Regions from separate parts of the Homo sapiens genome. Here regions 1, 2, 4, 5 and 6 are each linked to region 3. Evidence: fine-mapped expression QTL. A gene starts in region 3. Each other region holds a variant in brackets. All regions are shown on one strand. Distances are from middle to middle. Region 1 overlaps RTN1 (reticulon 1). Region 2 has its middle 150 kb from the start of DAAM1. Region 3 holds the start of L3HYPDH (trans-L-3-hydroxyproline dehydratase). Region 4 has its middle 47 kb from the start of DAAM1. Region 5 has its middle 53 kb from the start of DAAM1. Region 6 has its middle 32 kb from the start of GPR135.

Region 1 (5,076 bases), 200 kb before region 3:
GTCACCAAATATCTTGTGTCAGTTGACTTTTAAATATTAACCGAGAACCAAAATGTCACTCCCCTAGGTACAAATCAAATTGCTTCTCCTTTCTTTTGCCTGCACTCTTAAATGCTGAATAACCTCATAAGTAAGATTTCTATTAGGCAAATTAGTGCATGCGTATTAGGAACCACAGTTTCTGGAGTGGAGTTCAGTGGGACTAACTATATTCCCTATGATTAGTCACTTTAATCATAGAATTATGAGGAAACTCATAAATTATCAAATCATATTCTCAAAGCCTTTTTTAGCAATGCTTAACCATGTGCTCTGTAAGTATACATTTGATTTTGTTCCCTAGAGACAATTGTTTCTGTTTTATGAAGTGTGAAACATTACTCATTGGCAATTATGAGTAACTTTTATACTTGTTAAGTTTTATTGTTGTGTTAATGTAAACAGAAACACTTGTGTTTGTTTCCATTTGTTCAATACACATTTATTAGGCATCTACTTTCGCCAGAAGCTGGGAGATACAAAGATGACCATGAGTCAGTTCCTGCCCTCTAGCAATTCAAAGGAGACATAGGTATAAACTTCAACAGCAGGAAAGGCAAGTGGAATCCTTCTGTGGGGGCAGAAGTAGTCTATCTACCCAGCAGCCAGCACAATGCATGGTATAACATTGGATGTGTAATAAATCTTGTTCAAATAAATAAAATAATCATGAGAAGATGTACCAGAAATAGTAATGCCATAAGGAAAGGAAGACAAATGGAGTTGAACCTTGAGCTAAGTCTTGAAATATGGAGCAGGTGAGAGAATTTCAGTTGAAGAAAAGAATGTGTGTAAAGTCCTCAAAGGGTGAAATAGCATGTGATTTCAGGGAATTAGGATAATTCCATTTTTCTGGAAAGTATGTCAGTGGCAAAGCCATGGGAGATGAAGATGGGGAGATGGGAAGGAGCCACATTAAAAAGCACATGCTGGATCTTCTAGCTTCTTAAAGGGTAGCACCATGATCAGATTTATGTTTAGAAAGATTTCTCCATGAGAAGGACAGATTGGTAACCAAAAGGATAGTTAGAAGATCACTAAAAAAATCTAGTGAGCAGTGACGAGGGTCTAAACTATAAACTAAAGCTGTAGCAGCTGAGAGGATGAATTTGGGAGAGATTTGGAAAGTAGAAATCAAGGTTTGAGGGTAGGGGAAGGGAACAGTGAGACAGAAACAGGAATCTGGGATGATCCTTGTGTTCTGATGTGATTAGCTGGATGAAAAAGAAGGCTGCTTAGTGGAACACGATCTGAGAAGGTGATACAGGGAAAATGAGTTCATAGATGCCTAGGAGACATTCAGGAAGATTTATTTAGTAAGCAGTTAGTGACCTGAACCTGGAACTCAAGAGCTAGGTCCAGGCTGGAGATTCAGAGCTGGTGGTACCCATGTCTGGTGGTAACTATGAGCATGAGTGAGAGAGCCCAGTGGAGAATACAGAGTATTAGTGACCCAGATTCATTATTTCCCAGTGCCTACTGCAGTGTGTGGTTTGGGGATGGAATTGATATGACACTCATCATTGATAATCATTATTGGAGCTAGAAAAAAGGGTTGAAAAAATAGTATGGAGAACATTTTGGCATTTTCAAATTACCATTTTTTAAGATTCAGAATGATTTTCTATTGAGAGACAGTTACTCATGGAATAAAACATATGAATCAAGAACCAAGTAAATTAAAAGCAAAGTAACTGACTTGTTTTTGTTAGAGGAAATATATGTTCATATGTCTAAATTAAGAATTGTTCATAGCAAATAATGCTTGGTAAGTTTTTGTTGGATTTGTACATGTGGAAATCTAAGATGTATTTAATAAATATGGAAATAATAAAATAGATTTGTAGTTTTATGAGCACTTAGATGAAAAGAGAAGCAGAGAAAAAAGAGAAAATGGGAAATAGAGATAGACACACACATACTATTAATATAGAAACTTATAAAAGACAAAATAACTGTAATCCATAATTCAACCACCACTGTCAAAATTTCAACATATATTCTATTATTATGTCTGTACATATTTTTGTATACTTGTTATGTTGGCTGTATAAATTCATATACTTCTTTTTTTAACTTGATATGATAAACATTTTCCCAAGTTATTAAAAACTCTTCATAAATATGGTTTTTCATGACAGCATAAAGATGCCTATCACTTTTCAGTTACTTAGTTACACATTCTCTATTGTTCAACATTTAGATTTTAGCTTTAAAAAACTTTAAATACCACTCCATTGAGTATCTTTGTTTATAAGGCTTTGTGTTCATTTCAAATTATTTTCTTGAGATAGATTTCTGGAAATAGAATTACCATACTAAAACATATGAACATTTTAAGGCTCCTATTGCCAAATTGTGTTTTAGAAAGATGATACAAATGTATACTTCCATCAGCTTTATGTGGCAATGCCTGGACACACTAAATAATACAGCATGCTATAAAGCCTTGTATTTGGGTTCATTGGGAAATTGGTAATTGGCACTAACCTTGTATTTTATTCAGTGAATTCACTGATTAGCTCAAATTAGTAAAGATAGACTTATTGTAAACAATGACAACTATCTCCTTTTTTATTTAACTTTTATGCAAAATAACTTTAAAATGGAATTCAAAACACACTTCCCTATATTTTGCATGGTTTCACTTGGAAATACTTCTCCAGAAGGAAAGAAATGCTTCTCTAACTGGTATGGAGGGAAAGAGGGATTGCTCTTTCCTTTTTAGTACTATTAAGCAACAATTGTCTATTTTGGAGGAGGTTTATGACTTCTTTCAAAAACAAAGTATCCCATTTTTTCCCCAGAGCAAAGC[T/C]CTTAGAAGGCAATAGCTAAGAGCTATGTTACTAACATGATTGTTCTAGGAGGAGCACTGCTCAGCTCCCATGGCAACAGGTACCATGGAAATAGACACACTTTGTCAGAGGTATTGTAAATGCTATTGGGTATGAGGGCAGTAGTTGCAGTGAAATTTCATTGTTGCTATGTTGTAGAGGTTGCACAACACACCAAGCCTTATTTAGATTCTGTTGATAAGTCTGACCTGGTTTTTAAGAAGTTCTATTTTTTTAAAAAAGAAAAACAAACCCCAACCCCCAACCTGTTAGACCTAAGATAAAATGAGAACAATTTGCAAGGTTCAAATTGTTCTGTATGGAAGCTCTGGAAAATTATATGCAAGTCTGTATGGAAGCTCTGGAAAATTATGATATTTCAGAGAACTGTGAACTTTGAAGTGTCTGTGGCAATAAGTGATAGGTTGAGTGTGAATAACTTAAATCCAGAAGTCATCCCCAGACTTCATTTGAGCTAAACAGTTCAGCTTCTTCTCATAGGTCAGGTCACTGTTAATTTTTGCAGTGACAATGATTAACAATGAAATTATTAAGAGTGATTACTAATATAACACCTGTTTTGTACTCTGCTGTTTTACTGTTCAACCCTTTTTAATAACCATTAAAAGGTACCTATGACTAGTACTATAAGCAGATTCATCCCACAGTTGGGGAAATTAAGGCATAGAGAAGAAATAAAGACCTCATGGTCTTAGCTGGAGAGAGGTAGAGTCTGGATTGAGAAAAGTTAGAGCTCCAGTCTCTAGCCTTATTTTACAAACATTGATACAATGGTAAAGATGAAACCTAAGTCAAAGGGTGTATGGGTTATCATTGGTGGCTCTGTTTGTTTAATAGATAACTCAATTTAGCAGAGAGGGCTGTACTATTGTTTCATTTCAGAGCACCTGTGCAACTTCTGATGCTTAAGAGGGAAATTGAGAATACTTCTCTAATTCATACCCAAGCCACCCTAACAATTACACATGATAATACTCAATACAAAATGTCAAGTTAGGGATTATCTTGGCCTTTTTCTAGTAGATTCCTACCTGTTCCCAGTCTTTTCCAGACACTGTCATCCCTCACAATCCAATCTGTCACTCTGCCAGGAGCCAAGAGGATTCAGATGCTATCCCTTGCTTTTTGAAATCACAGTTGAACTCAAGAACCCAACAGAGTTAGATACTAAGACCCTGCACCTGTATCTATGGTCCTTAAACTTATATGTGCATAAGAATTACCTGGATAGCCTGTTAAAAATGTACATTCTCAGCTTCCCATTCTGACTAAGTAAGCCTGGGGTGAGGCCCAGGAAGCTGCATTTTTAACCAACTCCCCCAGTGCTTCTGAAGCAGGTGGTCTGTGGTCACGCTTTGAGAAACCTGAAGATCAGCATGTCAGTCTGTTAAAGTCTCTTCCACACCAGTGAGCCTAAGGACAATGGGGACAGTGGAGGTTGAGGAAGGGGCAGTAGTGAGAAGGGAGGCCTGTACCTCTGTGCCTGGGAGCCCAGCAAGGAACCTTCAGCTCTTGAGGTCCCAACATGTGCTGTGGCCCACGCTGGACCTCAGTATGTGGGAAAAAGCAACCAGCTTTCAGAATTCACAAAGGATGAGGCACAAGGTAGAGAAACAGGGATGCTGCAATCTGCAATCTGAGTGCGCTGGCCCCTGAGTCAGTAAGAGTTGTCTGTAGATACCTAAATGTTTAAATCAATTTTCTTCTCTCAGACAGTGGAATCCAGAACATATATTAAAAAGAGACCACTTCCAGCCTGTAGGAAAAATGAAGTTTTGTAGCTCATTGATGGCTTCTTTCTTGCTGTTAGGAAGGCCAAGCCAGAGAAGCTAAAATGATTGAGCTAGGCCATTTTCGCATTAGCATTCAACCCTTAAATAAAACTTTGGAGAAAAGACCCCTTTTCACATTCCCCACGCACCCCTACCACCACTGCCTAAGCTTTGGCAGCCTTCCAAATCCTCCAGACCCCAGAACAGGACTTGTCCCTGGGCTTGTTTTCCAGGGTTTATATGACGCCCTTGTTCCCTTCTTGGCAATTCAAGTGAAACTCACCATCTCAGGCCACAGCGTGGTAGTCATTGTTGTAAATAGCTTTGACTATTTATTTTTCTAAAATGCCTAGAATAGCATTTAGATGCCAAGATCCTGGGAGTGAGAAAAGAATGTTATTTTTGTAAGA
Region 2 (5,076 bases), 450 kb after region 3:
ATATTAGAAAGTTTTTTCAGAAAATCAATTTTTGTATTAATGGCCAACTGTCACTGCTGTACCTCAGAGTCTTTCTCCAAGGCTCAAAATATCATTGCCCCAAGCAGATATACTATGTAGGCAATTATTAGTATGCCTTTGTGGATTTATCTCTTTCTTATACCCTGGAATGAGGGTCAGAAGAATTCGCATCACTTTATGTCCTCCCAAAAGAAACCCAATACGACAAAGCAAAACAAAATTTTCAGATAGGCAATGTGAATTCCCTCATATTTATTAACATACCTTTAGACAACTATACAAAAGAGATCAATTCCTAGTCATGGAAGCAGAAAAATGACTCCACTTTCCCTCTAACTATAAACCTCCTATTCTTAAAAAGATGATAAACTGTGCTATTTTTGTAGATAGAAATATATTGGAGGGTCAAAGCTGGCCAAGTGGCTCAGTTGTTTATTCAGCCTCCGTGGAAGAAATTTTATCACGGAGTTACATGTTGGAGTATGTCAACAAATATTTTTAAAAGAGTACATGTTAATGCTTTCATTTTCTGATAAAGTAGATTAAGTTAGACCAAACTCTACCAGTTACTAGTGGTGTAAACTCAGGCCAGTTATGTATCCTTGCTGCGTGGATTAGTCTGTTTTCACACTGCTATAAAGACACTATCCGAGACTGGGTAATTTATAAAGAAAGGAGGTTTAATAGACTCACAGTTCTGCATGGCTGGGGAGGTCTCAGGAAACTTCCAATCATGCCAGAAAGGAAGGCATCTTCTTCACAAGGTGGCGGGAGAGAGAAAAAGGCCCAGGGGAAACTGCCATGTATAAAACTATCAGATCTCATGAGAACTCCCTCACTATCACGAGAACAGTATGGGGAAAACTGCCCCCATGATCCAATCATCTCCCACCTGGTCCCTCCCACAACACCTGGGGATTACAATTGAAGATGAGATTTGGGTGAGAAAACAAAGCCTACCCATATCACTGTGTTTCAGATCATCACCTGTAAAATGGAGATTAAAAATAGCTACTTGGAAGAGTTACTATAAAGATTGAATTGATATATTTGAATGCTTAGAGTAAGGTATAGCAAATAGAAAATGCCCAATAAATCTTAGCTAGCAGCCAAAGAACTGGTAGTGTTTGCAGCAGTAGCAATAGTAGTAGTAGCAGGAGAAGGAAGAGGAGTATCCACTCTGCCTTCCAATTCCTGCACCCCTTTGCCTTGCAAAGCGTGAGGCAGAAAGAACAAAATAGTTGTTGGTATGATTAACAAGATTCTTCTCTTGAGGAGGCCAGGTTCTAACATTAAGAAAGGTGAACAGCTTGTGTGTGTCATATGGCTCTGGGGCAACGCTTTGAGGCAGGGATTCCCGACTTGAAAGTAGTAGTGCTCTCAACTCGACTCTGCCTCCTCACAGCCTCTTCCACTTTAGAGAATGGAGCAAATCTCAGTAGCACTCAGGTGAACTTTCTTTCCCAGTGGGGATTTTAAGAGTGAAAACACATGGTTTTATGTTGTATGTGATATTCAGAACCTTAAGACATCATTACAAGAACAAGCACATTTTGCTGGGCGCAGTGGCTTATGCCTGTAATCCCAGCACTTTGGGAGGCCGAGGCCGGTGGATCACTTGAGGTCAGGAGTTCAAGACCAGCCTGGCCAATATGGTGAAACTCTGTCTCTACTAAAAATACAAAAATTAGCTGGGCATGGTGGCAGGCACCTGTAATCCCAGCTACTTGGGAGGCTGAGGCGAAAGACTCTCTTGAACCCAGGAGGTGGAGGTTGCAGTGAGCCGAGATCACACCGCACATTTTAACACCTGTGATCCCAATCCCAACACTTTAAGAGGCTGAGGCGGGCGATCACTTGAGACCAGGCTGGCCAACATGGTGAAACCCCATCTCTACTAAAAATACAAAAATTAGCCAGGCATTGTGGCCCATGCCTGTAATCCAGCTACTTGGGTTGCAGAGGCAGGAAAATTACTTAAACCCAGGAGGCAGAGGTTACAGTGAGCCAAGACTGTGCCACTCACTGCACTCCAGCCTGAGCAATAGAGCGAGACTTTGTTTCAAAAAAAAAAAAAAGCACATTTTAAAAGCAATATCCTTTCAATAACTAAAATCCACCCATAGTAAATTATACAATTAAACACGTTATAGCCATAGTTATTGGTGTACATTTTCAGTGTAAAATAATACATTTAATCAAACTACCAGTCAATTCAGAATAACAGAAAAACAGTACAGCCTCACCTGAGCAGCCATTTTAGTTTCTACCAGAATAATAGTATGCTTTTATCTATTATCTTCTATGTCAAGGTTTAAACTAACAGTAAGTCTTGTAACTGAAAAAACAATAGATACCTGCGTTAAACCCCCACAGAGTATTTCTTAGGTTCCTCTGGCATCAATAAAACACTTTGAATTAGGGAACAATCAAATACTAGGTTGGTGCAAAAGTAATTGCGGTTTTTGCCATTACTTTTAATGGCCAAAAAAACACAAAAAACAACAATAAAAAACCTCACAACCCGCAGTTACTTTTGCACGAACCTAATACTTTCAGGAACCATTAGAAGAGCATTCAAAACAAAAGCATCTTTTTTGGCAATATTCTACAAGAAGGTCTTTGTTGATCTGTTGGGGCTAAGACACTACACTGGGAAAACACCAGCATTTGAGGGTTTACTTTTCAGTAGTCATACCATTAACCTAAGGCTGCTCCACACCATTCCTGTCAACAAAGACCAGGCCCCCACTCTAGTGAAGCCATTTCAAAGTAATCCTACTGCAA[G/A]ACTGAAGGTTTTGATGATTCAAACCCATGGTACAGCTGGTCAGAAATGGACATTTTGAGCCTGTTGAAATGATCCTATCACCATTCCACAGTTCCATCTGGAACCTTGAGAATGGCTACTTCTACACACAGTCGTCTCCCCATTATTACCACATCTCTCCAGTTCGTGTGGCCCAGCAACTCCAAGCCTGTGATTCACAATCCTTCTGCATCCAGATTTTCCTGAATTGCTGCATTTTTGCTGTGATATCATCCAGCTCAACCTTCCTGGTCTACAGTGTCCCATGACCCTTTTCCTGGCAAAGATGTGGCTTGCCTCCTATAGCCAGTGAATCTCTTTATAGCTCTTTTAGGTTGGCGCAAAAGTAATTGCCCCTTCAGACTACTCACTCATGCTCAATATCACACCAAGTATCTGTGCTTAGCTGTGTTCTTTCCACCCTTCTCCACTTGCTGAAATACTCTTATAACCTTCCAGAAGTGGCTAACTTACATTATCTGTGATACATTCTCTGATCTTCTTTAATGAGAAATAAGGTTCTCTGCTAACTCAGTTATAGCACTTATTTGTACTATATTAGAGTACAATCCCCTAAAGAAGATCTGGGTAGACTATCTTATTCAAGACTTTATACCTCCTTCAAATGCATAATAGTGCTTTATATCCTCAATAAATGCTTCTTGGATGCAATTGAATAACTTACATATAATTTATATTATTGATAAGCTTTTATATTTTTCCCCTCTAGATTAAAATATTCAGAAGCAATATAAAATGTTGCAAAAATTGCGGGCTTTCGAGTTTTTCAGCATTGGGTTTGACTCTTGGCTCAGTCACAATCTATCTTGTGACCTTGCATAGGTAACTTCTTTGAACCTCAGTTTTCTTATCTGTAATGTAGATTTCATCATATCTGCTACACCCCAATCATTTTAAATTCCTGCTTAGAATGCCTGAAACAATAATTTCTCAATAAACAGCTTTTATGACTTTTATAACTAGTAACAATTATCTTTAGGCAGAAAGAGTCTTCATGGCATATTTTATGGTAACTTCCCCATAGAGTTTATTTAAAAAACTTTGTTGAGTGAATGAAAAATATGGTAATGCCTAAACTTGGAGCCTGAGTCTTGGCTAGTAGTTTCTGGGAATTAGTCTGTGAGAAACACGAATGGGTCATTTCCTCTTTTCTTGAATTTCAAGAAACTAAGTGAGTTTCTTCTTTTGCTAATTTGTCCTTTGCTGCTGTGAACTAGGAATGGGATAGTTATATATTTTGAGTATATATAACTAAAAGAGTGTATCACTAAACAGTCGAGGAAACTGATATGGTTTGGCTCTGTGTCTCTACCCAAATCTCATCTTGAATTGTACTACCATAATTACCACGTGTTGTGGGAGGGACCCAGTGGGAGATAATTAAATTATTCTCCCATACTGTTCTATTGGTGGTGAATAAGTCTCATGAGATCTGATCGTTTTAAAAATGGTAGTTTTCCTGCACAGGCTCTCTCTCTTTGCCTGCTGCCATCCATGTAAGACATGACTTGCTCTTCCTTGCCTTCTGCCATGATTGTGAGGCCTCCCCAGCCATGTGTAACTGTAATTCCATTAAACCTCTTTTTTCCCAGTCTCAGGTATGTCTTTACATACTAGTATAGAAATGCTGGCGCTGTCCCAGGTTCCAGGTTTTCATTAACATGAGCAACTCTAAACTTGGACCAATCTTTATGGCTATTCCCTACCATGTAGAAGGAGGCTACAGTGTCCCCATATTCAAATGACTGCCCTAGTAGCAAATTACTCTGGTGGAGCAAAGCAGAAGGACACTTTTGATTTGGCAGTGTTACCTGCATTGCAATGCTAGGATACACTGGAGGGTGACATGAGTCAAGCTTGTTGCACATGAAAGGTTCCACATGCTTTGTGTGCTATGCAAAAATTTGGAACTCTAAGGAAAAAAAATAACATGATTATGCTATTTATCTTGTAATAATAATAACAAAATGGAGAAAGAGGAGGAAGAAGAAGGAGGAGGAGAAGAGGGGGAGGAGGGGGAGGAGGGGGGAGGAGGGAGGAGGAGAAGAGGAAGAAGAAGAGGAGGAGCAGGAGGAGGAGGAGCAGGAGGAGATGAAGAAGGAGGAGGAGGAGGAGGAGGGGAAGGGGAAGAAATGCTTTGTTGAGTGCTTGCTATGTGCCAGGTACTGCCCTAAACATTTTTCTTGATGGAACCTCTGTTGATAATCATAACACCCTATGAAACAATT
Region 3 (5,076 bases):
TTACAAAATGAAATAAGATACAAACATAAGACTTACCCCACATTCTCCATATATTTCAGTTGAGCCATTTTTAAATAATAGGGTCTTCCCACAATAAAGTCCAAGGCATGCTGGTTGAATATCGACAGCTTTTTAAAAACAAATGCCAGTATAGTAACATCTTTTGTGATTATAAAAAATAATTGCAATAATAGCTGAAGCATTTGGCAAAAATAACAGTTTCAAATTTTTGAATAATATGTATTAGACAAAAGTCTTGAAGCATTTTTAAATTTACATTTCTCCTTTTACACTGTGACACTGCAGACAGTTATCCTGGAACCTTGCTGTTAATACCGTGCCTTATGATTAAGGTCCTCAACCAGCAGAGCAGGATCTATCTCCAGGACTCAAAGCCTAACCCGGTATGATTAGAGGATACTTCTGAGTTTAACTGATTATAAAGTTCAAATATACATATATTTTTAAATTAGAGCACCAGTAGAGGGTCACCACCTTGTATTTTGCCCAGTCAGGACATTAAGCACCCACATGTAGACACACAATTATCATTATCACCTATGTTCATAACAGAACACATTTTCACATGGGAAAAGCAGAGAGAACATAATTTCATAACAGAGGTATGCAAATTACCTTTATAAAAAGTTTCCTACATTGTCCTAGCTTTTATCATTTTTGTGGAGGATAAGTGAAAATTTCATCAAGGCTGTCACTGGGCCAATATTTTAGAAACCACTGCATTAAAATTAAGCCCCTGATCTAAAGGCTTAGGGGAAAAGCAGCTATTCCTTACTTAAAAAAACCCCAACAACTAAGAACCTAATACGTTGTCTTTGACCTTATTCACAAGAAATTATGGAAGTTTTCTTCATCAGTGACATCTGATTCCCTTCATTCATTCATTGATTAAAACAAACAAACAGGCTCGGTGAGGTGGCTCACGCCTGTAATCCCAGCACTTTGGGAGGTCGAGGTGGGCAGATCATGAGGTCAGGAGTTCCAGACCAGCCTGGCCAAAATGGTGAAACCCCGTCTCTACTAAAAATACAAAAATTAGCCTGACGTGGTGGCGCGCGCCTGTAGTCCCAGCTACTGGGGAGGCTGAGGCAGGAGAATCGCTTGAACCCAGGAGGCAGAGGTTGCAGTGAGCCGAGATCGCGCCACTGCACTCCAGCCTGGGCTACAGAAGGAGACTCCGTCTCAAAACAAACTGCGGTCTACATGTGAATTAATTTGAAAAATTATGCATCTTTTGACTATTCTTGAACAATCATTTCCCAAATTATTCACGAATTCACAATCTAGACTGCCTGGTCTACAGTGCCTTCTCTCCTTTCACATTCAAGCAGACTTTTTACTTCCTTCTCCTTATGCTGCTGAGAGAAAAAGAGAAACAGCATTGAATAATATTCCTCCAGTTTAATATTTTCGCTTTTAACAAATTTCGGACTTAGCTTTTTAAACCCACTGGCCTCTTTAATGGGCGCTTATTTTTTTTGTAACCAATTGTAATCACAATGTTCTAAATTAATACATGAAAATGAATATTTCAGGTTTTTCAAGAATGCAGAAGGTAAGGAATTGGAAACTTCTGTATGGGCTTTACATCTAGTAGATGCTTAATAAATACACGTGAATATCAATAATCTAAAGTTTCTCAAAATCCAAGGCCTGAAAACCAGTATGATAAACTGAACTGAAATAAACAGCCTATCACTTACTAAGCAAAACCCAGGCTCCAAGCGACTGTTGAATTTCTCCTTTCATTTCCTTTAGCGAACGATGGCTAAAGTTTTAAGATTCCATTTTTTTGCAGCGGTCCTGCCCTTTGTGACGGGCGCTATAAATCTACGTTTGAGGTTGAAGCAGTAGACAAATTATGCAGCAACTTGCTTCTGCTTTACTGTTTTTTCTGCACTATCACCCGCGTTTTCAATTCCGAAGTCAACCCTCAAGCAAGTGTTCCCTCGACATTAAACTAAGGGACTGAAGAGACATTTCGGACCAAACAACAAAGACCTGGCATTTCGCCGCAGACAGCGCGCCTCCCCTAGTAGCCCGTTGCGGACAGACCACCCCAACCCCGCAGGAGTGCGGAGCCCGGCCCGAGGGCGGGCGGGGTCAAGGGGCGAGCCTGCGCCGCCAACCGAAGGCCGCCTACAAAGAGCCGAGCCCGAGGCCAGCCGTGTAGGAAAGTAGTCGGGACTACCAGAAACGCTTCCCGGGATCTTGGCGACCACTCACCCATGGGCCGCCTGAAGGTTTTTTTCGAGAAGCACTAGATCAGCGGATCTGGCAGCTGCACCGAACATCCGGGCCACAGCGAGCTCGGCGGCTCCGCCTCCCGGTAACCCGGGCGACAGCTCCGAAGTTCCTCCCTCGCTTCCGGGTTTAGGCTCCGAGACCCCGCCCCCCGGACGTGGCTGGTTAGCGTCCCGCCCTCCTCCCGCGGAGTCAGTGGGTGAGGGTCGGGCTTGAAGCCATAGCTGCGGGACCGTACTCGTCTCCCCCGACGCAGACCATGGAGAGCGCGCTGGCGGTGCCCCGGCTGCCCCCGCATGATCCAGGGACGCCGGTGCTGTCGGTGGTGGACATGCACACGGGCGGCGAGCCCTTGCGTATCGTGCTGGCGGGGTGTCCGGAGGTGTCTGGGCCCACCCTGCTGGCCAAGCGGCGCTACATGCGCCAGCACCTTGACCACGTGCGGCGACGGCTCATGTTCGAGCCCCGAGGGCACCGGGACATGTACGGGGCGGTCCTAGTCCCGAGCGAGCTGCCGGACGCGCATCTGGGCGTCCTGTTCCTGCACAACGAGGGCTACAGCTCCATGTGCGGCCACGCAGTGCTGGCGCTGGGCCGCTTCGCTTTGGACTTCGGGCTTGTGCCGGCGCCCCCTGCGGGCACCCGCGAGGCCCGCGTCAATATCCACTGCCCCTGCGGGCTGGTGACCGCCTTCGTGGCATGCGAGGACGGCCGCAGCCACGGACCGGTGCGCTTCCACAGCGTCCCGGCCTTCGTGCTGGCCACAGGTAATGGGCGGGACCTTTCCAGCCCAGGGCAGAGCTGCAACCGGGACGCGACTAACTACATTAACGGTTTTTCTGGGCTGGAACTCTGGCAACTAACCTACTCCGCGAAACCTTGCAATTAATAGAAAGGTAAATCACTGCCAACGTGTGTCAGCAGCCTTGCGTATTTGGTGCGTGTAATTTCGATTTTCCCTGACTCCCATCCGCCTGTGGTTTTGGGAGACCCTTGAGGAGCGAGGAATTGCGTGTTACCCTGACTCAGCGCCTCCCTCTGCACTGGTGAGGCATTCCTAGAGATTTCACCGGTGGATAAAGCAAGGTACGGTGGGGTCAAGGAAAGAGCGAAGAACAGCCAATGTACCAGGGTTCCAGGCTGGCTGAGAATATGCTTGGTAGACACAGAATCACACTTAATAAGTTACTAAACCTGGTCTCCTTTCCTCACCTCCCCCACTTCTTTGAAGAATTAAATGAGAATGAATGAACAAAGCAGTTTATAAATCATTAAGATACGAATGTTGCTTTTCTTTAAGAACAGGAACACACATTGCCTGGTTTCAAATCCTGATAACCCCCTAAAGCTGTGCAACCTTAGGCAAATTACTTAATCTCTCTGTGCCTGTGTTTCTTCTTTTCCCTCATAGAGTTTTTTTGTTAGGATTAAATGAGAGTATGCAAGATACTGTATTCCTGGAGATAGATTGCAAGGTTTATATGATCGCTAAAGTTCCCTAGGCCTATTGAGCCATTAAAAGGTTTTGCTGGATTCTCTAGTACAGATCCTTGTACAGCTTATCATGTAAAGCAGGGCATCTCTATAACCATAACCCTTACAGGAGGGATGACCTGGCAAGCTGGCATCTGGTTTCTCATCAGACTACTACCTCCCAGGAGCTGAATTCTATCAGTAAGAATGCTTTAGTCATTGTGACTGGAAGTGAGCCAGGAGCCAGTTTACCAGGAATAGAGTTATCCTTTTCTTAAAAATCTTCAAGCCATGCAAATCATCTGTTAGAAAGTTGGACCTTGATTCCCCCTGAAGAACTAGGTTTCAGATTAGCCTGATTATGAATGATAACTGATAGAACAGGCACTTTTAGAGCAACCTTAGGCAGCTGAAATCCACGAGTTAACGAAGAATGCCTCTGGAGAAATTGATGCCATTTTCCCAGAGAATGGTGTCACTTCCAGACTGGGAGGCCACTTGAGGGAGACAGAATTTATGTTTACGATTCCATTTTTAAAACCTCAACAGTTTAACTAGCGTGGCTACCAGAATTCCCCCTAGGCAACTCCAGCAGCAGAGTAGAAACACTCTAGACTTCTGTAGGAAATGGCAGCTGGCAGCAGGAACACAAACTACATCTCATTTCTGGGTCAGTTAGGGCAGGGTCAGTCAACCACTTGACCTCAGTAGTTCCTCTCAGTAGTTCCTGAGAGCATCACTGTATGACAGTACAATGATTAGTGGGCATTAATGGTCACTGAGTTAAGAAAATGAAATGCTATATTCTCTACTTTGAAAAATGCATACAAGGCAGACATAGTGTTCAAGGTCACTGCCCCACCTCTCCCCATCTCAGTGACCTTGTGCTAGAGAGTCCATGCCTCAGTATCACAGTCTGCAAAATGAGGATGACAACAGTACCCACCTCAGAGGGTTGCTGAGTTCATCTCCACCCCACCAGGCTAAAATGCAAACTCTTTCTTGTTCACAGTATTCTAAGTGCCTAGAAGAGTAGTCAGTCAATGAATGTTTGTTGAATGAGTAACTAAATAAATGAAATTTGGAGAAGAATATGCTGATTGACAAATGTAAACATCTGGTCCTCTTGAGAAACCTATTGCCACTGGAAATTAAAGTTTTGGCTTTCGAGTCCCTAATCTGTGCCAGGAACTCCCCATACGTGGAATTTTCAAAACAACTCTTTTAGGAGAAATAGCAGTTACAGTTTGCACAAGACACCAAAGCCACACTAATGGCAGAACTAGGGTTGGAACCCTGGCCTATCATATTGCTTCCCTCTCATCCTTAAAATTTTTT
Region 4 (5,076 bases), 340 kb after region 3:
ACTCTATTTCCTTGTGTACATTTAATGGAAAAATATACCCAAACTACAAGACAAATGTGCTGCAAATATTTTTTAAATTTAATAGTTAAAATACAGACATATTTTGCATATTACCTTAAAACAGTTTCTCCCGTGACCAAATTAGTTCAAATCCTCGTGAAGCAACATCCATAAACTCATCCAGACGTTTTTCAAAAGCTCCTTTTCATTTCACTGTAATGTACATTTCACTGTAATGTACAACCATAATGCAATAACACAGGTAGAAAAATTTTAGAGCTGTTAAAATTGATAGCAGCCATTTCATGTTAGGGAAAAAGAAATGAAGTGGAAGGCCAAGGTGTGGCTTGTTATGCCATACCAGTGTATACTTGGATTTCCCAAAGAGCTGATTATATAGAGAAGGATGGGTAAAGCAGAAAAAGGCATTTTTAAGAGGGCTCATTGGCATCACCTATGTTTGATTTGCGCTGGATGTACCATGCAAATACTTAATGATGTTTATTTATACAGAAAAGAAAAACTAAGTTTTCCAAATGGCCATCAGTCATGTAGACTCTTTTCCCCCAGGGTTATTATTTAGGAATGAAAGTCTGTTTTAGTTCTGTTTGGTTGCAAATACATCTATTTGATCAATTTGCCAATGCTGTCATTCTTTTGGGGGTGGGGAGGAGGTGAGGGTGGCGGGAAACATTGCAAACCCTGCAAAGGTGTTTTAGCAGTAGCCTTTGGGACTTCTTTTTTGTTTTGTTTTTGAGATAGAGTTTCGCTCTTGTTGCCCAGGCTGGAGTGCAATGGCGAGATCTCAGCTCACTGCAACCTCCACCTCCTGGGTTCAAGCTATTCTCCCGCCTCAGGCTCCCAAGTAGCTGCGATTACAGGCATGTGCCACCATGACCAGCTAATTTTGTATTTTTAGTAGAGACAGGGTTTTTCCATGTTGGTCAGGCTGGTCTCGAACTCCCGATCTCAGGTGATCTGTCTGCCTCGGCCTCCCAAAGTGCTGGGATTATAGGTGTGAGCCACCGTGCCCAGCCTGCCTTTGGGACTTCTTTGGAAGCCACATGCACTGAGTAGCAGTCTCTAGTGAAGCAGCATGAGATTATGGGAAAGGGTACTAGATTTTGTTCAAGTCCTGGCTCTGTTCCTATCTGTGTGATGTTGGGCAAAGCACTTTCTCTTTTTGAGCTCACATTTTATTCTACCCTATCTGTAGGACTTTGATGTCTGCCTTCTTAAGGCCATTCTTTAAAACATCTTTTCAGAAAATTTCTCTCTCGATTCTTGTATCCTCCTCCCCCCACTTTCCTTTCTTCCTTCTTTATTTTCTTCCCTTCTCTCTTTTCTTTCCATAGGTTTTATTAATTTAGCACAATTTAAGCTTTGTATCATTTGAGAACATGGTAAAGATTTTCATTCACTTTAGTCTTTCATAAGCCTGGGTATGGTATTATATTTCTCGGGTAACCACTAAATTATAGAAACAAAAGGTACAACTTACTGAAGTAATAGAGGAAAAAAGTTCAAAAAATAAGAACCAAAATAGATTTGGGGGGGAAATTGTTTATTTTAGTAACTGTCTGATCTTTTTCAACTTTGGAGATGGAATAAGTTAATAATTTGCTTAACTTAAAAAACTTTTTTTTCTTCCTGGCTTCCTCCCTCCCTTCCTTCCTCCCTCCCTTCCTCCCATTCACTCTTCTTTCCCTTTTGTTGTTTTTTCTTCTTTCTCATATTGATCTCTTTTGCCACGTGCATGCAAAGCAGCCCTTTTGACTGCTGTGCAGATGAACAGTTATTAGAATGTAGTTCTGTGATTATACCATATAGTCAACTTGTAGAGTTCTTAGTTGATATAATGCCTAGCCAAATAAGTTTCAGAAATAAAAGATAAATTGTCAAAGGAATGAGATTAATTGAAAACCACCATGATTCTGGTTGCATGTATTCCCACCCTATCTTTTCAGTCACAGTATGTACTCATTTCCAAAAGGTAATCAAGATCCGAAATGTTCATATATTTGTTATAAATTTTAAAAGGACTTAGCTATTTCTCACAGGATTACAAGCACTTATTGAGACACTAGCTCATCTTTCTTTGCTCCACTTCCAAATAAATTTCTTGCACACAGCTCTGCAGTCATAAATCATCCCGAAGATCTCAGGTCTGGAGTCTTCAGAGCTGTAGATCATCACCTGAACATAATTCTCAAATCTCTGGGCACCACTCTGCATATTCTAGCCCCATGTTACTTTGACCTTTCCTTTGATGTCCAGAATTTGTTGTCTCCACGTGAACATGCTCAGTGATTTTCTGTTTTCATTTTTGGAGAGGAAGGTGTATTAATGTATTCACAGACAATTACCTTTCTCTTTCCTTC[T/CGTTT]TTCTCTTTCCTTCCGTTTTTTTTTTTTTTTTTTTCTGAGACAGTCTCTGTCACCCAGGCTGGGGTACAGTGGTGCGATCTTGGCTCACTGCAACCTTCACCTCCTGGGTTCAAGCGATTCTCCTGCCTCAGCCTCCTGAGTAGCTGGGATTATAGGCACACGCCACCACACCCGGCTAATTTTTGTATTTTTAGTAGAGATGGGGTTTCTCCATGTTGGTCAGACAGGTCCTGAACTCCTGACCTTGGCCTCCCAAAGTGCTGGGATTACAGGTATGACCGCCCTTGGCCCTCTTTTTCTTTTCTTTTCTTTTTTTTTTTTTTTTTTTTTGAGATGGAGCTCTGTCACCAGGCTGGAGTGCAGTGGTGCAATCTCGGCTCACTGCAAGCTCCGCCTCCCGGGTTCAATTGACTCTCCTGCCTCAGCCTCCCGAGTAGCTGGGACTACAGGCATGTGCCATCATGCCCAGCTAATTTTTGTATTTTTAGTAGACATGGGGTTTCACCATGTTGGCCAGGATGGTATCGATCTCTTGACCTCATGATCTGCCTGCCTTGGCCTCCCAAAGTGCTGGGATTACAGGCACAAGCCACCGCGCTCGGCCTACATTTCTTTTTCAGTAATAATTTCTATTCATGAATTACTATGAGGCATCCACTGTTTTGGCACAATCTTTTAATGAACTTAGAGTTATAAAACAGATGAGCTAGAAGGGGTCTTAAGAGACCCTCTGATCCAGCCCTCTGCCTTTTAGCATTCGTCATAGCCTTTTCTCTTTGGGAAAATTGGATGATTTATTTGTTTCTGCCACACCTGATCAGCATGCAGTTTAGTGCAAAAAAAGTTCAAACTAGTTTAAGAAGAAGTGGGCTTTGGTCAGAGGAAAGGCCATATACTTTATGTCAAAGGAAATGGATGTTGGGAGTAGATGAGCATATATCACAGGTCTGAACAACATGTTTCCCCAGGGTGGACTGGAATTCCAGTGGTTCATGATCCTGTCAAACTCAAGTGGTTGAGAGAAATGGGCTCCAGATTTCCTCTGTTACAACAGAAACTTGCAGATACTAGTCCGTGTTAAAATGAGAAATAGTAGGACCTCGGTTTTCTCTTTTGTAAATTATTATTCAGGAAGGAAAATAAAGATTATTGATCATTGGGTTACAGCTTCAAAAGGAACAGGTGTTCTGTGGAGAAATCAGTTTGATTTTGTGTGGAAAAGCAGACCATCCCGGGAGCGATGGTGCTAATACCTGCTAAGCCACGTGGTAAAAGAAAGCAAATTCGTTAGCCATATGGGATCAGTCAAGGGAATCTGATTGTTTATAAAGGTCTTGGTGTCAGTCCAGGACTATTTGATAGGGTCTCTAGTACCTGACGCTGAGGTCTTTTATGCATTTCTTGCACATTTACCATCTGCTTCAGCCTGTGTTTTTGGAGTTAATTTATTTCACATGGAAGAAACCTTAGAGAGCATCTGGCCTCTTGTTGGCCTATTAATGTACCTTTAAGGGCCAGAAACTGATGTAAATGTGTAACACTGCTAGGTATAGAAGAGAGAAAGTGGGGGACTAGGCTGGACTGGAGGGTGATACACCCACACACACACACACACAATGCATGTCTAAGCTTGTATGGAGCCAGATTTGAACCATAGGCCACAACTTAGCAATGATTAAGCCTCTAATCCCCTTATTTTATAGACAGAGAAACTGAGGTCACCTGTATGGTTGATGGCAAAGCTGGGAATAGAATCTCTGTCTCCCAACCGGGAGGTTTAGGGGATTGTGTATAAGACGTATGTACAAAACACAGTCATGAGAGCATGTTATCACCCCAAAATACTGTCACTTGGTGTGGCTGGTGTGCAGGCTTCAGAGAGAGAGAGAAAAGTGATAGGAGAGGGGCTAGAGATGGAGCCAGCGGCTGGACCCTGAAGAGTCTTCTCTGCCATTGAGTTTGGACCCAATCCTGGGAAAAAAACCAAAACAAAACAAAGCTCGGGAAGCCACTAGATTTTAATATAGAAACTTGTCCCTGAGGGAATGCTACAAGGAGGGACTACTTCACCATTGGCCAACCCCATAGAGTGTGACAGGCGAAGTCACCCTTAGGCCAGGCTAGGAGGCCAATTTTCAGAGGGTGTTCTCTTCTCTTCACAGACTTTGTTCAGCCCCTCAGGCCAGTGCACAGGCTCAGTCTCCACTATGCCAGCGGAGTTAGACACTGAACCCAATGCGCAAGCAATCTTCCTTGCTGGTAGTGTTGGGCAGAAGGGCTGCTGGGGGATGAGAATATCACAGATCATAGCTAATATTCTTGAAATTAGAAGCAGACAACTTTAAAGATTCATTGGTCTTAAAGAGATGATCTATCTAAATAATTTATTATCCAGAGGTGAAAATTCTCCGAATTCATTTTCTAAGGATCTCATTATTCAAAGTGTTCTTATTGCCTCCATCCTAAAATAATGTTCTTTTTTAGGGATAACTTTATTTACTATAAGGAGAATTATAAAAGTAAATTTACAGGAAAATGGCAAAGTATGAATTGTATAAGAATGTCACAACCTCTGTCTCTTATTTAGTGTTACTCTCTTGCAGTTTGGATGACAAGAAACCATGGCTTAAGGTAAAGTGATTAAAGGTTCCCCAGGAGCTCCAGCTGTCAGTGTAGGGACAGCCTTTCTCATCA
Region 5 (5,076 bases), 350 kb after region 3:
TATGGGATCTCCTACCTATTGATCTCTGCATTAACCCTACCTGTGAGACGCTGTGTCTTTACCTTTCTCTTGAATTTGGCTTAGATTTTACTGCCCATTGTTCCAATATCACTCTTGCTCACTCCCTTGTCAGTCTTCTTTAGTTGCACCTGAACTGATGAGTGGTTCCTAACTGCTGCTGCACATTACTGGGAAACTTCCTCAGAACACAAATGTCCTGGCCAACCATCAGGTTTATGGAGCCTGGAATCTTAGGGACATAGTCCATGCATGTGTGTGAGTGTTCCCAAAAAATTCCCAGTGTGATTCTGACACAAATCCCAGTTAAATAACCACTGATCCTAACCAAACCCTCTGTTGGCTAATCTAGCTATTTTGTCATCTCTGTGATTGCATCAAGCAGCTGAGAAGTGCTGGGGCGCTATCACACACAGGTGCCCATTGTCACTACAGTTTCATAGTCACCAGCCTCAACTGGGCACTCCGTGCTGCCCGTGCATCCTACCAAGTTTCTTTAATTGACTGGCCCACCACTCTCTATAATTGCCATTTCAAACCTTCCACACTCTTTGGCTTCTCTTCTCTTCCTCTCAATTTCAGCAGATGATTTTTTGCTTCCTAAGTGGGAAATTCACAATTTATTGCAATACAATTTATAAACCTACTTGTATTAGCACCTATTCTCTTCTCTCCTGTTCCAGTGGAGGAGGAATCTCTTCCATCTAAAGTGAATCCTTTCATGTGTTCTCTGGATCCCATTCCTCCCCACCTCCCCTAATAGACAAGAAGCAGAATTCAACTAATCTATACATTTAGCTTATCATCTTGACTTCTTAGGGCATTTTACACAGTTTACTCTGTCCTTCTTGAGCTCGTCTGTCCTTTTTCCTTAGCTGTTGTGATAATATACACTCTCTTGGTGTCTTTTGTACCTTGCTGTCCCTCCTCCAAGTCTTTTTCTTTTTCTTTTTTTTTTTTTTTTTTTGAGATAGAGTATCGCTCTGTCGCTCAGGCTGGAGTGCAGTGGTGCAATCTCAGCTCACTGCAAGCTCCGCCTCCTGGGTTCATGCCATTCTCCTGCCTCAGCCTCTCAAGTAGCTGGGACTACAGGCACCCACCACCACGCCCAGCTAATTTTTTGTATTTTTAGTAAAAATGGGGTTTCACTGTGTTAGCCAGGATGGTCTCGATCTCCTGACCTTGTGATCCGTCCGCCTCATCCTCCCAAAGTGCTGGGATTACTGGCATGAGCCACCACACCTGGCCTCTTCCAAGTCTTTCTTTACTGGTTTTTCCTACCTAATATTTAAATATTGAAGTTTCTGTGCATGTTTCTGGGAAGGGGTCTGGGAAGCACTGCATCCATGGCCAGCCACCTCATGCTCAACAATGGCACCAAGATGGCCATCCTGGGACTGGGCATCTGAATGTCCCCTCCAGGCCAGGTGACCAAGGCTGTGAAGGTGGCGATTGATATCAGGTACCGCCACATCCACTGAGCCCAGGTACGAGAATGAGAATGAGATAGGGGTGGCCATTCAGGAGAAGCTCAGGGGGCAGATGGTGAAGCGTGAGGAGCTCTTCATCATCAGCAAACTCTGGTGCACATACCATGGGAAGGGCCTGGTGAAAGGAGCCTGTCAGAAGATGCTCAGTGACCTTAAGCAGGGCTACCTGGACTACTACCTTGTTCACTGGCCAGCCAGCTTTAAGCGTGGGAAGGAATCCTTCCCATTGGATGAGTCAGGCAACATGGTTCCCAGTGACACTGACATTGTGGACACACGGGTGGCCATGAAGAGCTGGTGGATGAAGGGCTGGTGAAAGCTACTGGCATCTCCACCTTCAACCATCTCCAGGTTGAGAGGATCTTAAACAAACCTGGGTTAAAGTATAAGCCAGCAGTTAACCAAATGGAGTGCCACCTGTGCCTCACACAGAAGTTAATCCAGTACTGCCACTCTAAAGGCATTATGGTGACTGCCTGTAGTCCCCTTGGCTCTCCTGACAGCCTCTGGGCCAAGGCTGAGGACCCTTCCCTCCTGGAGGATCCCAAGATCAAGGCAATCATAGCCAGGTGATCATAGCCAGGCGATCCAGGTTTGGATCCGGTTCCCCAGGCAGAGGAACTTGATGGTGATCCCCAGGTCTGTGATACCAGAATGCACTGCTGAGTCACAGACTTTGAACCAAGCAGCCAGGATATTACCATCTTATTCAGCTACAACAAGAACTGGAGGGTCTGTGCCTTGGTAAGCTGTGCCTCTTATAAGGATTACCTCTTCCATGCAGAGTTTTGAAGGGGTGGATGCCTGCTCATCCCCAGTGACCTACACTTGTTTTTCCTGCTCATTTTTTTCTTGCAAATATAGCATGGCCTGTGTCACTCAGTGGTGGAACAACAACCACTAGACTGAGCAGCCAGGGCTTTTCTAGCTTGATGTTGGGTCTGAGGAGCAGTGTCAGTAGAGTAGAAGTCTATTCCAGTTTCCTCTGCCCTCTTTTTTGCCCAGCTGGGGAAAGTGTAGTGTGCATACCCTTTTTTTGACCAAGGAGAAGCAAAATCTACAAGGTCAAAATAGTGCCACTAACAGTCACGTTTTGACTGCTTGTAACTTTTCAGCAAGACTTCTCCTTGCCTAAAAAAAAAAGTGCTGTTGTGAGCTTAAAAAAAAATTTGACATTTCTTAGGCTGTGTACTACCATTTTAACTTCCACTCCCCCATTTTCTTCAAACCTCCATCTTTGTATTATTGTGTGTGTGTGTGTGTGTTCAGTTATAGGAATTTGGGTGTGCAAAAGTGTAAATTTCTTTTTAAAACATTTCTCATAGTCTCATTTCT[G/A]CCGACAGTAGTAACTCAGTTACTTTGGCTCAGGGTTTCTCAACCTCAACACTCTTCACATTTTGGACAGGATAATTCTTTGTTGTGAAGGTTGTCCCACATGTTTTGGGATGTTTAGCGGCATCCCTGGCCTCCACTCATAAGATGCCAGCAGCCTCCTGCCCTTCCTAGTTGTGCCAACGACAAAATGTCTCCAGATCATATCAAATGTCCCTGGAGGTGTAAAATTGTCCTTGGTTGAGAACCACTGCATTTACCTTAAACTCAGTCTCTTTGGGGGTACCTAGTCATTTTGTTTCACCTCATCTTCCTTTTCCTTCCCATCTCCCTGGGAGTGGTCAGAGGCTCTGGAGGACTTATGCATAACCTTGACATTCTCAGAGAAACCTTTGATCTGCAATTACTTCTCCACTGGCATTCACTGTTGCTGTCACTCAAAGCCTGTTCTCACAACAGGCTCACTGCAGGACCATTGCTCTGCTGGGTTTTGGCGTCTCCCCTGTTGCTTTCCCATAGTTCCTGCCTCAACATTGGCCGGTGGCTGTCTAGCTTCTGAAACTCAGCAAAATTTTTCCGTCTCAACTCTGACTGTGGCTGCCCATCCCACAGCCTCTACTGTGAGAATCTCCCTTTCTCTTCTGCAAGTTGATATTTTAGTTCGCTCTGTGCTCACTCAAGTCCCTGATCACTTGCAGGGGCTCCTTCAAGGTGGCATCTGTGTATGAGGTGGGGTCTCATCTCCTTTCTCCTTGAACCTGACTCATCCTTTCCATTTTAGTGCAGCTACTCCATGTTGGCATGGGGTGCCCTGGAAGGCAGCTTCCTCCCAGCAATTCAGACACAAAGTCCTCTGCTGTCTTGTCTTCCTGCATCTTCCTGAAGGTTTCCATCATCCCTTCTTTTCTAGGGTTTTGGACCCAGAGGGAGCAGCATGTGGAACCCTCTTACAGAGACCACATCACTAACTCCCTTTAGCTGGTTGACTCCCCATGTTCTCTCCAGCTCCCTCCCTCAAGTCTTCTTATCATCTCTCTATATTTTGGGACGAGTTCTTTTGCAATCAGAGATTAGACTTTGTTGTAAAACACTATGTTCTGAGTGCTTCATGTATTTTTCCTTCTGGAGCTTAAGAAACCTTCCCCCAACCTCCTTCAAATCTGTCTCTGCCATAGGCCTAAAACCTATTTTGGAACTCAACATAGGCTTTCGAGCCCATTATTCGATTCTTTCGTTCATGCTGGGATTTTTGGTGTTCCTTCTTCATTGGGATAATAAGCCCTAGCGTTAAGGTTCGGTAGAAACGACAGAAGTACTGGACAATAAAAAGAACTTGCCAAGAAGAAAAAATATATAAACTATTATTCCACTACCTATGACTGATTGTTTAACTTTTGCACTTCCTTTTGCGAAAGCCCTGTTCAGGGCTCACCAAATATTTCATTTCCATCAGAGCTTAATCTTTGCAGAGGAAGAAGTTAATACTACCTATTGCTGACTTTGAATGGGAGTTTGGGGATATGAGGGTCACAGAGAGATGATTACTGCCCCCTTCCTCCAAACTGTGGAGCTGACCACGCCATAAAACAGTTTCAGTCATCAGGAATGAGCTTTGAGAGGAACCACTGGTGTAGAACTTTCAGTCTATGTGGACATAACCAATAAAAAATTTGGAGGGGGTGTAAAGTGTATGTATATGTGTTTAAAATGTTATTGGCAAAGCCTGGTTGTTTTACTGCCAGTAATGGTCATTCATTTTTTCCCCTATAATTCTATTCAGCTTCATTCTGGACTGATTCAAATAGGAAGCCGACACGATGTCAACCAAAAATCATTTTAATCTCCAAGTCCCATAAAACAATATAAAATACTCATATAACTCACTTTCCTGGAATGAAGTTTATAGCAACTAAAGTGCTTCCAATTTTATTTTTAGAAACTGGTTCATGCATTTTACATTGAATTAAGTCTAGTTCTTTTCTGTGACAGTTGGAGAGATATTTTAAATCTCAGCCAGTGGGCAAAGCATAATTTGTTTCTGATCTACATTTTTGCTTTGAAGAAACCATCAACTCTATTAATAAAACAAATGCTGTTTTCTTTTCCTTGAGAATCCACAACCTGCACAGCCTCTGCTTGACAATCTGAGACAAAATAAATGTGATAAAATGGATTTTATATTACAATGAGCCAACCTGACATGGAAGTCAAGGGACTGGTCCCGAAGAGTGACAAT
Region 6 (5,076 bases), 51 kb after region 3:
TGGGGGCACCCCTGGAGTTGGGAGTGAAGTCAACCCCACCCAATGCAACCTATACAAAAGGAGAGATTGAAATTGATGTTGGGGAGATACTACAATGTCTTCTAAATTTATCTCCATATTTAAGGCCTAAAATTTTAGGAGCTAGTTTCATGTTTGTGACAAATGCTGGTAGCTGCCTTAGTGGCATTCTATTTCAATGGTAACAAGAAAGTTAACAACTCATGTTATGAAGAAATAGGATAATTCCTAGCGTAGTAACCCAAATAAAGTTAATTATCTTAATTATCTTAATAATCAGAAGATACAATAGCAGATTTATCTACTGCCATTTGCTGTGAAGCCCTTTGTACCACCAACGCTGCTCTGTTGTATCTTTAAAGAGCCTAGTGACTGCAGATCCCCTTCTGCCACAGTTATCATGTGACACTAAGTCATTGGCAGGCAGGGGAGTTCTTTTGAATTCTGGTTGTTTTTAGTTTAGTGCAAATTCGTAAGTCCAGATGAATTTTATCCCAGGGTGATGAACAAATATGGAGATGCTTTCAGAACTGCTATATATAATCTTCAAAACTGTTGGGGGGTAGTTGATGTTAGGAAAATGGAGACACCTCCTCATCCAGATTTTCAAAAGGTCAAATCCTATAAGATGATATCATGTCCTAGAAAAATTCAAGAGCTCATTTTAAACAGATGGTGGAAGAACATTAGAAAAGAAGTTATCGCTAGGAGTCAAAAAAGTAGTTCAGTAATTGTAAGACAGGCCAAATTATCCTCATTATTGATTTGTTGCATCTGGGGAATGCCATACCTATAATGTACCATGACTAGCATGGTTGGAAGTCCTCCAGCGCAGCCTTCTGAAGAGGCTGGAGAGATGCTGGCTCTTTATTGAACTGTGAGGTGGAGTCACAGCTGGCTGAACCAACACAATAACCTAAGTATCTATGTGGCAGGATATCTCTTTTAGAGTATCACAGCGTTTAATCCTTACATTTTTTTCTATAAAACATTTTTTATGATTACTTGGAAAAAGATACAAAAGAACATAATTTGGTGTAATTATTTCAATGAAGCTAATGAGATTTCCTGCCACACAGATGAATACAGAGCATTACCTTCATAACTGTTATAACCTGTTGTGGCAGATGACATCTGGAGTATTTGTCCTGGTCTGAGCAATACATTATAAAATTGGTTTAGAAAAATTTGCAGCAGAGATTAGTATGGCTAGATCTGCCTGGAAAATGACCTGTGAAGGAAAGTTAAGAAAAAAATGTATGTTTAACTTGGGAAAAAAAAAATTTTGGAAGCAGGGCCTGTGATACAGTTTGGATATTTGTCCCTGCCCAAATCTCATGTTGAATTGTAATCCCCAATGCTGGAAGCGGGCCTGGTGGGAGATGTTTGGATCATGGGGGCAGATTCCTTATGGTTTGGTGCTGTCTTCACCATCGTGAGTGAGATCTGATGATTTAAAAGTGTGTGGCACCTCCCCCGGCCCTTGCTCCTATTCTTGCCATGTGATGTGACTGCTCCCCCTTTGCCTTTCATCATGATTGGAAACTTCCTGAGGTTTCCCCAGAAGCAGATGCCACTATGCTTCCAGTTGACAGCTTGCAAAGCCGTGAGCCAATAAATCTCATTTCTTATAAATTACCCAGTCTCGGGTATTTCTTTACAGCAATGCAAGAACGGTCTGACATAGCCTTATACTATCTTCACGTGTTAAAAGAGGACGGGATTGGGCCGGGCGTGGTGGCTCACACTCTTAATCCCAACAGTTTGGGAGGCCAAGGTGGGCAGATCACCTGAGGTTGGGAGTTCACAACCAGCCTGACCAACATGGTGAAACCCCGTCTCTACTAAAAAATACAAAATTAGCCGGACATGGTGGTGCATGCCTGTAATCCCAGCTACTCGGATGGCTGAGGCAGAAGAATCGCTTGAACCTGGGAGGCAGAGGTTGCAGTGAGCCAAGATGGCACCATTGCACTCACTCCAGGCTGGGGCAACAAGAGCGAAACTCCATCTTAAAAAAAAAAAAAAAAAAAACCCAGGATTTTTTTTTTTTTTTAATTTACAGATGAACGATGAGTTGATGTCAGATTAAGGTCAGAGTTTTATTCTATATAAATTAACTGTCTAATGAATAGGTTGAACAGGGAGGGTATAGATTCCCATTCTCTAGGGATATTCAAGTAGATGCTGTAGAAGGATTCTGTAGGGCTGAGTTAGATGACCTCAGAGAGATACTCTGATGTGCTGTGGTTTGTAAACATGTGTGGCATATTTTAAAAGCATATTGTAATTATATTTTAAGCCATACGTATGTAATCTTGGCAAGAACATTGTTTCTTCTCGAGTCATTCACATGCTAATAGGCACTCTCTGAAACACAGTCCTATGCCAGTTGGAGCCTGTGGGATGTGGCATATACTGGGACAAGAGAAGGTTCCAAAGCTCTTATATTAGGTGAATACCAACTCTATCTGGATTTGTCATTCTAAAAGCCATCAGGAAACCATGTTGCTGACTCCTAAGGATTATACGTCTTTTCTTTTCTTTTCTTTTTTTGAGACGGAGTCTTGCTCTTTCGCCCAGGCTGGAGTGCAGTGGCGCGATCTCGGCTCACTGCAAGCTCCGCCTCCCGGGTTCACGCCATTCTCCTGCCTCAGCCTTCCGAGTAGCTGGGACTATAGGCGCCCGCCACCACGCCCGGCTAA[T/C]TTTTTGTATTTTTAGAAGAGACAGGTTTCACTGTGTTAGCCGGGATGGTCTCGATCTCCTGACCTCGTGATCCGCCCGCCTCGGCCTCCCAAACTGCTGGGATTATAGGCGTGAGCCACTCCACTCCGGGCCATACGTCTTTTCTAAATGCTCCCAAACCACTGTTTAACAACATCCTAAAGACTTTCTAGGCCATGAGAGGTATCATGTTCTGGAATTCGCCTTTTTGAAAATCAGTGTCTTCACTGTTCTCACACGTCTACTATAAATAAGGGGAGTAATTTAATTCCTATTATATGTATGTGTATGTATATGTACATATATGTGTATTTTTATATGTGTGTATATGTATCTATAGGTATATATATTTATGTATAGCAGTAATTACCTGTTTAATGAATGAATGGTGATGATTTAAATGTAAAGGGAATGATGCCAGAGGTTATGAAAAAAAGCTGCCTTCAAAATATGAAATAGAGAAAGAATAGAGAAATGCATGCCAAGCTCTAAATAATTTATTGTAATTTACTTGGTTCTTGGTTTTCTAAAATGGAAATAAAGAGATAATATTGAGCTTAACTCTTACTGAGACTATGACAAACGATAGACGTGCTTAATACATTTTCTTTTTTTGGGGGGCGGGGGGGGACAGAGTCAAGACTGTCACCTAGCCTGGAGTGCAGTAGCGTGATCTCAGCTCACTGCAGCCTCTGCCTCCCATGTTGAAAGGATCCTCCTGCCTCAGCCTCTTGAGTAGCTACAGGCCACCGTGCCTGGCTAATTTTCATATTTTTATTAGTGATGGGGTTTCACCATGTTGGCCAGGCTGGTCTTGAACTCCTGGCTTCAAGTGATCTGCCCATCTTGGCCTCCCAAAGTGCTGGGATTGCAGATGTGAGTCACTGCACCTGACCTAAAAATAATTTCTAATATGAGCTTTTTTACTGGCAGAGTACAAAAAAGTTAATTATTAGAGATTATACAATGTCTCGCTACGCGAGTTGACTGATTTTTTTGTTTTTGTTTTGTTTGGTAAGCTTTCAAGTGCACAGTCTACATAGAGTTTATAAGAAGTAAATCTTGCTTTCAAATTAGTATTTCAATAAAATTAGACACAAGAAAGAGTAAGCTATTGCTTCATCATATTTTCCCCTCTTTATTTTCTTCTCCTTCAATTAATTTCTTGTTGCTATTGTAACAAATTACCACAAATGCAGTGATTTAAGACAACACATATTTATTCTTCTCTTAAACTTTGGAAGTCAGAAATCAGAAATGAATCTTATAGGGCTAAAATCAAGGTGTCAGCAGGGCTGATTCCTTCTGATGGCTTCAGAGGGAATATTCCTTGCCTCACCCAGCTTCCAGTGGCTGCCAGTTTCCTTGGCTATGGCCATATCATTCCAATATCTGCTTTCCTTAACAAATTCTCTTCTCCTCTCTCTGAACTCCTCCCTCCTTTTTGTAAGGAACCTTACAATTACATCAGGCCCACCTGCATAATACAGGCTAATCTCTCATCTCAAGATCCTTAACTTAGTCACATCTGCAAAGTTCCTTTTACCATGCAAGGTGACATATTCACATGTTCTGAGGATTAAGACATGGACCTCTTTGGAGGACTACCACTCGGCCTACCACAATATAGAACACGTATTTTTAAAATAACATATCCTAAATCACTTTTTGAAGTGAGGTAGGTACATGCCATGATCCAACCAACCAATCATTTCTCATTGATATCTCCTTCTTGCTTCCTCTGCTTTATCACTTAAATGCCTATCTAGTTCAGAGGAGGTATGAACTTAAAAAAAAACAAAACAAAACAGTAGGTTCATTTCCAGCACTGAATACTTCATTGATTCATGATATTAACTCAAGTAAGTGCTTTTTACTGGATTAGAAGGAGGGAAGTTGAACTTCACCTGTAACCTGACATTTGTCTGAAGGGCACACTGCCATCACTAGAGTGATGCATGAATCAGTCTGAACAGGGTGAAACAAGTGACATCCAAGTTACAGTTGAACACAGGATTTCGAGAGATCATCTTTTTAGGATTAAAATATTATTATAGATTTTTTATTCTGAAAAAGTTTTTGATTCCCATGCAGTTGTAAGAAATAATACAGAGACGCCATGTACTTTTATTTTATTTTATTTATTTATTTTTTTTGAGATGGAGTCTCACTCTGCCGCCCAGGCTGGAGTGCAGTGGCACAATCTTGGCTCACTGCAAGCCCGCCTCCTGGGTTCAGGCCATTCTCCTGCCTCAGCCCCCTGAGTAGCTGGGACTACAGGCGCCCACCACCATGCCCGGCTAATTTTTTGTATTTTTAGTAGAGATGGGGTTT

Evidence for each region. PIP is the estimated chance that this variant, and not a neighbour inherited with it, causes the effect.
Region 1: its variant is fine-mapped to the expression of L3HYPDH in tibial artery (GTEx, PIP above 0.99).
Region 2: its variant is fine-mapped to the expression of L3HYPDH in whole blood (TOPMed, PIP 0.98).
Region 4: its variant is fine-mapped to the expression of L3HYPDH in monocytes after interferon gamma (Fairfax 2014, PIP 0.95).
Region 5: its variant is fine-mapped to the expression of L3HYPDH in vagina (GTEx, PIP 0.99).
Region 6: its variant is fine-mapped to the expression of L3HYPDH in whole blood (INTERVAL, PIP 0.95).

Annotation. Positions count from the first base shown.
Region 1 is chr14:59,677,953-59,683,028 of GRCh38, reverse strand. The region is part of intron 3 of RTN1 (reticulon 1); the gene reads left to right. Among named protein-coding and RNA genes, the nearest start is that of MIR5586, 33 kb to the right of the region's middle. The variant T/C (reference allele first, on the strand shown) is at 2,855.
Region 2 is chr14:59,035,220-59,040,295 of GRCh38, reverse strand. No RefSeq gene overlaps it. Among named protein-coding and RNA genes, the nearest start is that of DAAM1, 150 kb to the left of the region's middle. The variant G/A (reference allele first, on the strand shown) is at 2,809.
Region 3 is chr14:59,481,765-59,486,840 of GRCh38, reverse strand. L3HYPDH (trans-L-3-hydroxyproline dehydratase) reads left to right here and starts at 2,433. Exons shown (of 5, transcript NM_144581.2): 1 at 2,433-3,032. The coding sequence starts at 2,525. JKAMP (JNK1/MAPK8 associated membrane protein) reads right to left here and starts at 2,324. Exons shown (of 7, transcript NM_016475.5): 1 at 2,248-2,324; 2 at 37-128. The coding sequence starts at 2,251. RefSeq lists an enhancer at 2,079-2,358.
Region 4 is chr14:59,138,927-59,144,002 of GRCh38, reverse strand. No RefSeq gene overlaps it. Among named protein-coding and RNA genes, the nearest start is that of DAAM1, 47 kb to the left of the region's middle. The variant T/CGTTT (reference allele first, on the strand shown) is at 2,382.
Region 5 is chr14:59,132,710-59,137,785 of GRCh38, reverse strand. It overlaps the pseudogene AKR1B1P5. Among named protein-coding and RNA genes, the nearest start is that of DAAM1, 53 kb to the left of the region's middle. The variant G/A (reference allele first, on the strand shown) is at 2,844.
Region 6 is chr14:59,430,647-59,435,722 of GRCh38, reverse strand. No RefSeq gene overlaps it. Among named protein-coding and RNA genes, the nearest start is that of GPR135, 32 kb to the left of the region's middle. The variant T/C (reference allele first, on the strand shown) is at 2,724.